Homo sapiens: one gene and its partner. The protein of the gene in region 1 interacts with the protein of each later gene in a pairwise test. Each region holds a gene or a part of one and is shown on either strand. Other genes may lie near its edges. The genes, in order: HGH1 and TTC4.

Region 1 (8,293 bases):
GAGCGCCAACAGCCAGTCCTGCAGCTGCACTGCCCCAGCAGCAGGGCATCCCCAAGGAGAATACGGGCCCTGAGCTCAGGCCTCCAGAAGCGCACCCCAGAAGAGGGGTGGGTTCTGCCCAGCTGGTCCTCTAGAGCTCGTAGCAGCCAGCCTGGGAGTGAGCGCCTCCAGGAGGCGCTCCAGTAAACTGAGGGTGGGTGGGTGGGGCAAGGCCAGATAAAGCATTTATTCTGTGAAGACAGTGCTGATGTCTGAGTGCTAAGAGGGCAACTGGCCTCCAGTGGCAGGTGGGGGCTCTGGCCAGGGGAAAACATGGTCCACACATGCCTGCATGAGTGGCAGAGCTTTAATGGGGGCAGGTGAGAGGAGATCCTGGAGGCGGGAGACGCCCGGCACCCAAGCCACAGCAGGAGACCATAGGGGACGCTCCAGTTTTAGGGTGTGGAGTGAGGCATTGTGAATTGCCAAGAAGACAAGCTAAGCTCCTTCACCAGGGCTTGACGGGCCTGGGAGGGCCCATCAGTGAGCAGGGGCCAGCCCTCAGGATCCCAATGCAAGAGGTGGCAGTGAGGTCAGGTCAGCTCAGGAAGGGAAGTGTGGCAAGAGCCACCATGACAGCCTGTGGGGCTTGGCAGCCACATAACTGGCAGGTGAGGGATGCACATAGGTCCAGGGGAGAAGCACGTAAGGCGCCTGGGCCTATAGTGGGCTCTACCACAGGGGCAGAGGGTGGCTGGGGGAGAAGCTTGGGCAGGGACTAGGCTGCAGGCACATCTGGAGGCTCTTGGCAGAGGTAAGAAGGCCAGGGAGGAGTGGCCCAGGCTCAAGGAAGCTGACCAGGGAGACGGCCTAGCTAGAGAGGCCAATGAGAGCACCCACTCAATCTGAGACTGGGAAACAGGAAGACTTAGGGAGCTGACAAGGGTTGAGGGCAGGGTCCTGGAGCATAGGTCAAGCAGGGAGGCACAGTCCTAGAAAGACCCCAGGATCTACGTATGGCTGGGTCAGCCCTTTGAGGCCAGGTCTCAGGGAACAGGGAGCTGAGAGCTGCAGGGAGTGAGGCTGACAAAGCAGCACTTGTACCTATGCGCCCACCTCTGCCCAGACTCTGCAGTGCCCTGGGGATTGGGAGGCTTCAGCTGGCTCCTTGGGGCTTGCAGTGGTTTTCTGTCCAGTCCCCACGCCGTGCCCAGGAAGAGTCTTCTCATGGCTCCCTGGCCATCCGCCTGCCACCTCCACCTTCTGCACAGGCAGCCGAGTCACGGTGCCTACCTCACAGTACTGCTCTGCACAACCTTCATTCTTGCTGGTAGCAACACTGCACAGGGCTGGAAAGTGCCTCCAATCCTTACTGGAGCCTAAGCGTAGCTCTGCTTCTCAGAAGAGCACAGTCTCTGAACAAGGGGACCCAGGGGGCCTGCAGACAGCTGCAGGAAGGCCTGGTCTGAGAAAGCCTGGCAAAGGGGACCCTGGAGCTGGTGTCCGGCTGCAGGGGCCTCAGGTGGGTGTGGCCCTCTCCACCCATGGCTCTGGGGCCAGCTCCCGCTCCAACTGCTCCTGCTCCCTGCAATCCAGCTGCTGCAGCTGCTGCTCCACATCCTCAGGCACCTGCACCTCCAGCAGGTTTTCCATGCCACGTTCAGGCTCGTCCCCAATAAGCACCTGCCAGACGGGAAGCAGGTGAGCAGCTGGCCAGCTACAGACACCCCTTCCCCAGCCTCTCCAACCCTGCACCAACCTGGATGAGCTTCTCACAAGCCGTCCGCACGTCGGGCTCCGGCTCCCAGCTGTGCAGCTCTCGAAGGATCAGGTAGGCTCCCTGGTCCCGCACCTGCTGCCGACCTGGTGCTGTGGCTGTCAGCTGAGGAGGTGGAAGAGGTTACCCAGATGTCAGCATGCTCATGTGTGTGTGTTGGGGTGGTGCTTATTGCAGCAGGGCTCCTGCTCACCAGCATGATGGCTTCAACAAGCATCTTGCGGATGTCTGCATCAGGTTCTCGCTGCTTGTCTGGTGGCAGGTACTGCAAGTCGACAGGCAGCCCTAGGGGTGAGTGTGTGGGAGCCACTGTGTCCCTGGGCTGGGCAGCTGAGCCAGGCTCTGCCTGTGTAAGTCCCACCTGTGCTCAGCAACTCACTGCTGCAAAGTTTCAGGAGCCTGTGGCCTGGACACCTCTCTCTCCCTCCACTGGCCTCCCTCCTCTCCGGCCAACTCTGAGGCTCCACACTAGCCACTCACGTTCCATCTCTTCCTCGGAGAAATCCTCAGGCCCAGCCAAGGGCAGGAGCAAAAAGGGGAGAATGTCCACCTCAGGTCCAAGCAACCACTCGTGATGTCCTGAGGGATGGTGAGGGTGGGGAGACGGGAATGGAAACTGGTCCAGAGCAGCCCCGGAGTCCAGTCCCCACACCTGGCAACGCACCCCCGCCACACCCACCACTCACGGTGCTCGAAGCAGCAATTCCGCAGCGTCCCCACCACCCCGCCCCTGCGTACAGAGGAGTCGGGGTACTGGGTAAGGGGCAGCAGCCGCTGGACCACGCACCTGTTGGGAGGTGTCACTTAGGGCCGTCCCCCCTAACTTCCGTCCCCTCCCCGCCCGCGCGGGCGCCCTGGGCTTCACCTGTCGGGGTCCAGTAGGAAGGCCCGCGCCGCAGGGCGTTGGCTGAGGTTGGAGAGCAGCGGCGCTAGGTAGTGCAGGGGCGCGCGGGCGTTGTAGCCGGGCGTGCACAGCGCGCGCACCAGCCGCTCCAGGCCCGAGTCTGCCGGCTCCGCGGCCGCCAGCGCCGCCATGAGCGCTGCACACGGCGCCGGCTCGCGACTGAGGTTGGCTAGCGCGGCGGCCGCCTCCTCGGCCCAGGGCCACTGCGGGTCCAACGCGCGGCCCATCAGGCGCGCTGGCAGCCCGGGGTCGGCCGCCAGCAATGTCTCGTGCAGGCCGGGGTCGGCGGCCAAGTTCACGAGCGCGCGGGCGGCGTCCCGGGCCGGGGCAGAGGCCGGCGCCAGCTCCATCAGCGCCTGCAGCAGCGCCGCCTGCCCCGCCAACAGCGCGCGGCCGGGTCCGCAGCCAGTCAGCGCCAGCACGTGCCGCACCGCCGCCGCCTGCAGGTCCGCCCGCGCGCCCGGCGCCAGGAAGGGCAGCAGCTTCACCACCTCTGCCTCCGGGCTTGCCTCCGGCCCTCCCGAGGCGCCAGCGCCAGCCCCGGCCTCCCCCATGTCGAGCGACACTCTGCTGCCACCCGACCGGTGCCAGCGGTCCGCTTAGGGGTCCGCTGTGTGGCCCGCAACCCCGCCCACCAGAGGAGCGAAAGCCGCCCTGGCCAATCCGAGGCTGCGCACTGGGCTCAAGGGGCGGGACCGGCGTGCGGAGGGGAGGGGCCAGGCCGCGCGCGGGGAGTTATGGGTCTCGGCGTCTGGCCGGAAGCTGCGGAGGTTGGAGACTGAGCGCTGTGATGTCCCGAGCCATGGGGACCGAGGCCCGGCGCGATTTGGCCGCCTGCCGCGTCCACACTCGCTGGAAGCGTCCATGTAGTCTCGGCTAGGTCGGCCAGTGCTTCCCACTGGGCGCTGGCCACGCCGAACCTGGTCAGCCGGCCCTGGCTTCTCGTGGGCCCTGAGGGTCTGAGGCCCGCGCCCCGGCTCCTCGACTAGGCTGTCGGGTCAGAGAAGGGCTGAATGGGGGAGTGGCCACGGGCCTCTCGGAAGGAAGGCCTGCTCTTGTCCAGGCTGGCACGGCCACCGAGAAGCTCAGGCCGTCCAGGGACAGGACAACACAGGGCCCCAGTGGGGACCTGAGGAGGCAGCTTTGGAGAGGCCTCTGGGCATCTCTGAGCTGGTAGCTTTGGGGCATTTGTCAGGACGTCTTCAGTCGCAAGTGACAAACCCAACTCAAACTGACTTGCACGAAGAGAAAATTTGTAAATGGAGGTTTGGAGGGAGCCAGCTTCCGGCACTGCTTTATCCAGGAGCTCTCTGGAGCCTTGTACTGTCTACCCTACCATTGCTCTCCCTCTCTGCTGCCCTGCTGCTCTGTGGCTCCATATCATTTCCACCTGCCACTGGCCGATTTTCTCAGAGCAGTTGGGAAAGAAAGACACTGGGACCTCCCAGTTCCATGGTCGTGGCAGAAGAGTTTCTCTGTCCCAGTATTGGAGTCTGCCCCAGAAAAGGACTCCAGTTCTTCACGTGTCCTCCACTGTGGGCGGAGCAGCAACCTTCTAGAGACACACAGACTGGGAGGAAGGGAGGGCAAAAGAAGGGCATTCCCTCACTCCAGCATTTTTTGGGCACCAGCCATCTGCCAAGCTGGTAGCTCAGGACACGGAACCAAACAACTTTGGTGGCCATTCTGGCCTCAGGGTCTTTGCACTTGCTGTCTCTTCTGCCTGGAATGCTCTTTTCTCAGCTGTACACAAGGCTGGCAACTTCTAATTATTTGTCAGAGCTATCTTCCCTGGGCAACTTACAGAGACTCAGCCCACCCGCCACCCATGACTGCTTGGTTTCTGTCTGCCTCCTTCAAGATAGCAGTACTTAGGCCAGGTGTGGTAGCTCATGCCTATAATCCCAGCGTTTTGGGAGGCCAAGGCAGGTAGATCACCTGAGGTCAGCAGTTTGAGACCAGCCTGGCCAACATGGTGAAACCCCTCTCTACTAAAAAAAATACAAAAGGTAACCGGGGGTGGTGGCACACTCCTCTAGTCCCGCCTACTCGAGAGGCTGAAGCAGGAGAATTGCTTGAACCTGGGAGGAAGAAGTTGCATTGAGCCAAGATAGCGCCACTGCACCCCAGCCTGGGCAACAGAGGGAGACTCCATCTCAAAAATAAAATAAATAACAGTAAATTAGGCCGGGTGCGGTGGCTCACACCTGCAATCTCAGCACTCTGGGAGGCCAAGGCATGTGGATCACTTGAGGCCAGGAGTTCAAGACCAGCCTGGCCAACATGGTGAAACCCATTTCTACTAAAAATATAAAAATTAGCCGGGCATGGTGGCGTGTGCCTGTAGTCCTAGCTACTTGGGAAGCTGAGGCAGGAGAATTGCTTGAACCTGGTAGGGGGAGGTTGTAGTGAGTGGAGATTGTGCCACTGCACTCCATCCTGGGTGACAGAGTGAGACTGTCTCAAAAAAAAAAAAAAGAAAACAGTACTTAAAGGAAGGTAATAAAATTTAAGCTTCATGGTGCCTTGCTTGGACGGGTCCTTTCCAAAGCTTCCCTGAGAGCAAACCTTGCATAGTGTTCATATATATAGTCATAATGGTTTTGCAAAGTAGGGTGTAGCAGACATTATTGGTGCAAAACCCACTAGGATGGCTATGATCAAAAACACAGAATTTCTTTTTTTTTTTGAGATGGAGTTTTGCTCTTGTTGCCCAGGCTGGAGTTCAATGGCACGATCTCAGCTCACTGGAACCTCCACTCCCAGGTTCAAGCAATTCTCCTGCCTCAGCCTCCCGAGTAGCTGGGATTATAGGCATGCACCACCACGCCTGGCTAATTTTTTTTTGTAGTTTTAGTAGAGACGGGGTTTCTCCATGTTGGTCAGGCTGGTCTTGAACTCCTGACCTCAGATGATCCACCCACCTTGGCCTCCCAAAGTGCTGGGATTACAGGCGTGAGCCACTGCACCCGGCCAAAAACACAGATTAAACAACTGTTGATGAGGATGTGGAGAAATTGGAACCCACATACACTGCTGGTGAGACTGTAAAATGGAGCCGCCACTGTGGAAAACATTTTGTCAGCTCCTCAAAAAGTCAGACATTTGCTGGGCATGGTGGCTCGCGCCTATAACCCCAGCACTTTGGGAAGCTGAGGCTGGTCGATCACAAGGTTAGGAGTTCGAGACCAGAGTGACCAGCATGATGAAACCCCATCTCTACTAAAAATACAAAAATTAGCCAGGCACGATGGCACGCGCCTGTAATCCCAGCTACTCAGGAAGCTAAGGCAGGAGACTCACTTGACCCCAGGAGGCAGAGGTTGCAGTGAGCCAAGACGGTGCCACTGCACTCCAGCCTGGATGACAGAGCCAGACTCCATCTCAAAAAAAAAAAAAAATCAAAAAAACGCAAACAGAGTTATCATATAACCCAGCAATTCCACTCCCAGGCATCTAGTCAAGAGAAATGAAAACTGAAAACCACACAGAAACGTGAACGTGTACAAGCAGCATTATTCATAGTGGTCAAAAGGTGGAAACAACCCAAATGTCTGTCAACTGACGAATGGAAAAATAAACAGATAAATCCATGCAAAGGGATATTATTCAGCCATAAAAAGGAGCAAAGTACTGACATATGCTGCAACACATATGAACTCCAAAATCTTACGCTAAATGAAAGAAAGAAATCACAAGAGATCACATATTTTATGATCCCATTTATAAGACACGTCCGGAATAGTCAGTTCATAGAGACAGAAAGTAAATTAGCAGTTGTCAAGGGAAGGGTAGGGTAAGGGGAGTAGGAGTGACTGTTAGTGGGTGCTATGGACCGAACAGTGTCCCTCCAAAAAATGCATATGCTGAAGTCCTAACCCCAGTGTGACTGTGTTTAGAGATGGGGCCTCTAAGGAAGTGGAAGGGCACTCACCAAAAACCAAATCTGTCAGTACTTTGATCCTGGACTTCTTCCTAGTCTCCAAAAATGTGAGAAAATACATTTCTATTGTTTAAACCACCTAGTCTATGGTATTTTGTTATGGCAACCTGAGCTGACTGAGACAATGGGTTTGGGCTTTCTTTTTTGGATGTTGAAAATGTTGTAAAATTAGATTATGCTGGTAGTTGCACAACTGTGAATATTTAAATTGTAAATATTCTAAACATTTAAATTGTACTAAAACATTTAAATTGTACACTTTAAATGGGTTGATTGTATTTGAACTATATATCAAAGCTGTTAAAAAGACGGCACCCATGTAACATTTGGGACACGTTGATACCAAAAAGTATTTGTTGTTTGTCTGAAATTCAAATTTAACTGTATCCTGGACAGTAAATTTTGAATTTCAGACAAATAGTAAATACCGTATCCTCTATTCGAATTTAACTGGGTATCCTGTATTTTATCTGGCAACCCTATTTGCAGCCTGTTGGCTTTCTGGCAGTCACCCATGAGCCCACAGACAACTCTCTGTTTAGGAGAGAAAAATACCTTCCTGAATACTGAGGAAACCCATGATGTCACCCAAACTGATCAACTGATGTCACTAATGAATGTGAACAAAAACCAAGAATCACTAGATATTAAGTAAACCAAAGGCATATACCTATTTACAGAGGTAACACAGTATGTGAAGCAGAAGGGAACTTTTTTTTTTTTTTTGAGATGGAGTCTGGCTCTGTCGCCCAGGCTGGAGTGCAGTGGTGCGATCTTGGCTCACCCAAGCTCCGCCTCCTGGGTTCACACCATTCTCCTGCCTCAGCCTCCCGAGTAGTTGGGACTACAAGCGCCTGCCAGCACGCCCGGCTAATTTTGTTTTGTGTTTTTTGTTGTTGTTGTATTTTTAGTAGAGACAGGGTTTCACTGTGTTAGCCAGGATGGTCTTGATCTCCTGACCTTGTGATCCACCCTCCTCGGCCCCCCCGGGATTACAGGCGTGAGCCACCACACTTGGCCGGGAACTTTTATTTATTTATTTATTTATTTATTTTTTGAGGTGGAGTCTCGCTCTATCGCCCAGGCTGGAGTGCAGTGGTGCGATCTTGGCTCACTGCAGCCTCCACCTCTCAGGCTCAAGTGATCCTCCCACCTCAGCCTCCTGAGTAGCTGGGACCACAGATGTGTGCCACCATACCTGGCTAATTTTTTTTTTTTTAGATGGAGCCTCTCTCTTTCACCAGGCTGGAGTGCAGTGGCATGATCTTGGCTCACTGTAACCTCCGCCTCCTGGGTTCAAGTGGATTCTCCTGCCTCAGCCTCCAGAGTAGCTGGGATTACAGGCACCCACCACCATGCCCAGCTAATTTTTGTATTTTTTTTCTTTTTTTTTGAGGCAGAGTCTCGCTCTGTTGCCCAGGCTGGAGTGCAGTGGCGCAGTCTCGGCTCACTGCAAGCTCCGCCTCCCACATTCACGCCATTCTCCTGCCTCAGCCTCCCGAGTAGCTGGGACTACAGGCGCCTGCCACCACGCCCAGCTAATTTTTTGTATTTTTTTTAGTAGAGACAGGTTTTCACCATGTTGGCCAGGATAGTCTCAATCTCCTGACCTCGTGATCTGCCTGTCTTGGTCTCCCAAAGTGCTGGGATTACAGGCGTGAGCCATGGCGCCTGGCCTAATTTTTGTATT
Region 2 (3,297 bases), on another chromosome or scaffold:
TGGTCCTCAGGTCCTTAAGTGGCCAAAACCAGGAGTAGGAAGGAGGCTGAACTTCAGCTTCCTAGCCACAAGCCACAGACAGGGACCGGCACCTGGAAGCTGCATGGTTCTTTGTAAATATTCCACAGCCAATTTCCTTTCAAAGACAGTGAGGCACACTACACAAAACTCTAAATTAGTCTACTTTTTTTTTGGTTTGTGTTTGAGACAGAGTTTTGCTCTTGTTGCCCAGGCTGGAGTGCAATGGCACGATCTTGGCTCACTGCAACCTCCGCCCCCCGGGTTCAAGTGATTCTCCTGCCTCAGCCTCCCGAGTAGCCGGGATTACAGATGCCTACCACCACGCCTGGCTAATTTTTGTATTTTTAGTAGACACGGGGTTTGCTATGTTGGTCAGGCTGGTCTCGAACTCCTGACCTCAGGTGATCCACCCACCTCCGCCTCCCAAAGTGTCGGGATTACAGGCGTGAGCCACCGCACCCAGCCTCAAATTAGTCCACTTTTAAGGACAGCAGCTGGCTTCAGTTTACTCATGTATTAGCTCTGCTATAGTAACAACCAACCCCTAAATCTCACTGCTTACTACAGCAAACATTGCTCTCTCATTGCTGTGACACTCAGTGGCTGCAGGCCAGCTGCTGTAGCTCGGCTCCATGGAACGGCTCCTCTGTGGGAAATGTGTTCTCACAGCAGAGGGAAGAGCACAGGCCAACCACACATGACTCTTCAGGCTTCTGTCAGACGCAGGACAGCTCATGCCTGTGCATATCCCTCTGCATTGGGAGCAGGGAAGTACACTCTCCCGGGGGGATGGGGTGGGGGCACTGCAAGAAGTCACACAGCTACAAGTCAGGATGGATAAACTCCTCTTAGGAATGGGGCAACAAACAGCTGCAGACAAAAATATACTCTGTAACAACCCAACATGCTAGAAGATTTTCCAGTTTAAAAGACACAAAATCCTAAATGTCAAAACTGCAGAGGAACTCAAGAGGCCACTGTCCAAAGTCTGTCACAGTCCTCCATATGGCAAAGATGAAGAAAATTGGCAATCTTTTTAGGGGTACCAAGGATCTGAGTTTGTACGGTCTTTATAAATGCAGAGCAAGATGTGGCTTTCCTGCCCCCATTTCACCTCAAGGCATCTTCAGCAACCCCACATGGCTTCCCTCTGTGCGCATGAAATAACTTGAGGCCAGGGTCTCTCAGCTTTAAAGCCTTGGAATCCTATGCATTGTTTGTTTGTGTGTAGATGTGCAGTTTGAGGGGTAGCTTCTCTAAGGTGTCAAACTCCACAAAAGTTCAGAATCATGTCACTGGATCCTGAGTCCATCTCCACAGACCAGGGTGCCGCTCAGGTCAGTTGCTGTGGTAACTGCAGCAGATGGTCCCTTTAGCGATGGAGTCCAAGGACATCATGGCCAAGACCCAGAGTTTTATATCAACTGAGGAAAGTGAAGACCAGCCAGAGAGGCTGCAGTTTAGGGAAGCCAGAGGCTCCTCCCCCACCACGATGCCAGGAAGGACTATCCCCAGGGTGACGGAAAGAAAGCACTGGACTCCAGCAGTATGTCCAGCTGATTCAGGTGTGCTAGGTTCCCAGCAGAGGAGGGTAAGGGAGGAGATCCAGGGGCCCTGGCTTAGTCATCGTATCTGGTACACCTTTCTCCCCCGGAGAAAATTCTTGCAAAAAGGAGAGGATCCTACACAGACCAAAAATGCTGGTGTCAGGGCTTTTACAAAGTACCTGCCGTGAACACAACAAAAGAGAGGGTGTTAATTTAATTACAATCTTAACCATCCATGCACCTTCCTAACAACATGCAAGGTGAGCCTCTGGATGGGAGTCAACATGAAAATGCAAGTTTAGCACAGTTATGTGGTTGTTCATAAATCTGGCAAATTAGCATGACATTCTCATCCTTACAACCTAGCCAGAACCTTTAGGCCAGTCCTCTGGCATCATGCATGTCTGTGGCTAAATATGAAATAAAAATATAAAGCATGGTTTTATTCATTCATTCAACATTCAGTGGTAAGCCAGGCCCTGTGCTGAAAACACAGAGATTAAAAAACCAACACCCACACACCATCATCTTTGTTCTCAAATTCAGTCCTGGAGGGGAGGGAGATGAGGAACCAATTAATGACAGCAAGGCACAACTGCAGAAGCATTTGTGAGGCGCAGCATTATCCCAAGGAGGCACGATTCCCTCTATGAGGAAGGGAATCAAAAAAGGCTTCCTGGAAGATGCCATGTCTGAACTTGGCTTTAATTTGGGGAAGGGGTGGTGATGGGGGTTGGGGAGCAAAAGCCAGGAGGTGCAAGTAACCAGAATGTTTGCTGTGGCTAGGGCACAAAGCAAAAGGAGTCAGGCAGGCTAGAGAGGCAGGGAGGGCTTTGGCCTCCCAGGGATAGGGGTGTTGTATTACTCAGTGGGCCTGCTTTGGGACAGAGGGCCTATTTCGTGGCTCCACCCAGTTTAGGGTCTGAAGTTGCCAGAAACCAGTCCTGGGTAGGCTCTTGCCTATGGTAATAATTTTAAAGGTAGTAACTTCCAACAGCATTTACATTTTCTGAGAAGCATGAAACGGGTTTCCTCCAAGCATCGGTCTGCTTTCTATTTAGATTTCTCCTCTGGGGTAGGGCAGAACTCAGGCCTTTAAAGAATTCTGGGTAATTTGCTAACAACTGAGAAAATGAGCAGCTAAAAATGTGTCCAAAAACTAGAAGAAGAGAGATTTGGGACCAGAGCAAAACACCACCAAAGGTATCAATCAGATCTGGAAAAACCTTTCCTTCCTGCCTACCAAGCCAAAGCATTAAGACTAGCTGGACACCCCTATCACATCACTCAACACTACACCAGCTCCCATCCAATCTACCTCCTAAACCTCTAATCCACCTCCTCCTACTTCAGGCCTCACCACTGAACAGTACACTTCAAATCTTTACATTACTCTGTAATTTTTTTGGGTAGTGGGAGGAGGGGGTCTCACTCTCACCTAGGCTGGAGTGCAGTGGTGTGATCATAGCTCACTGCAGCCTTGAAATGCTGGGCTCAAGCAATCTTCCTGCCTCAGCCTCCCAAATAGCGAGGACTACAGGTGCACAACACCATAAAAAAGATTTCTATAGAGACGGGATCTCGCTGTGTTTCTCAGGATGATCTCTAACTTCTGAGCTCAGGTGATCCTCATGCCTTAGCCTCCCAAAATGCTGGAATTATAGGTATGAGCCACTGTACCCGGCCTATTCTGTACATCTTTTAAAATCTTTTTAATTTTTAAAAATCA

What was found.
Region 2: the proteins of HGH1 (region 1) and TTC4 interact in binary tests that used the Homo sapiens proteins (3 or more experiments, as listed by UniProt).

Annotation. Positions count from the first base shown.
Region 1 is NC_000008.11:144,132,757-144,141,049, reverse strand, and holds HGH1 (protein HGH1 homolog), read right to left. Parts: upstream 3,277-8,293; 5' UTR 3,215-3,276; coding exon 2,622-3,214; intron 2,544-2,621; coding exon 2,443-2,543; intron 2,336-2,442; coding exon 2,237-2,335; intron 2,042-2,236; coding exon 1,950-2,041; intron 1,862-1,949; coding exon 1,739-1,861; intron 1,663-1,738; coding exon 1,498-1,662; 3' UTR 199-1,497; downstream 1-198.
Region 2 is NC_000001.11:54,739,861-54,743,157, reverse strand, and holds the end of TTC4 (tetratricopeptide repeat protein 4), read right to left. Parts: intron 1,748-3,297; coding exon 1,645-1,747; 3' UTR 501-1,644; downstream 1-500.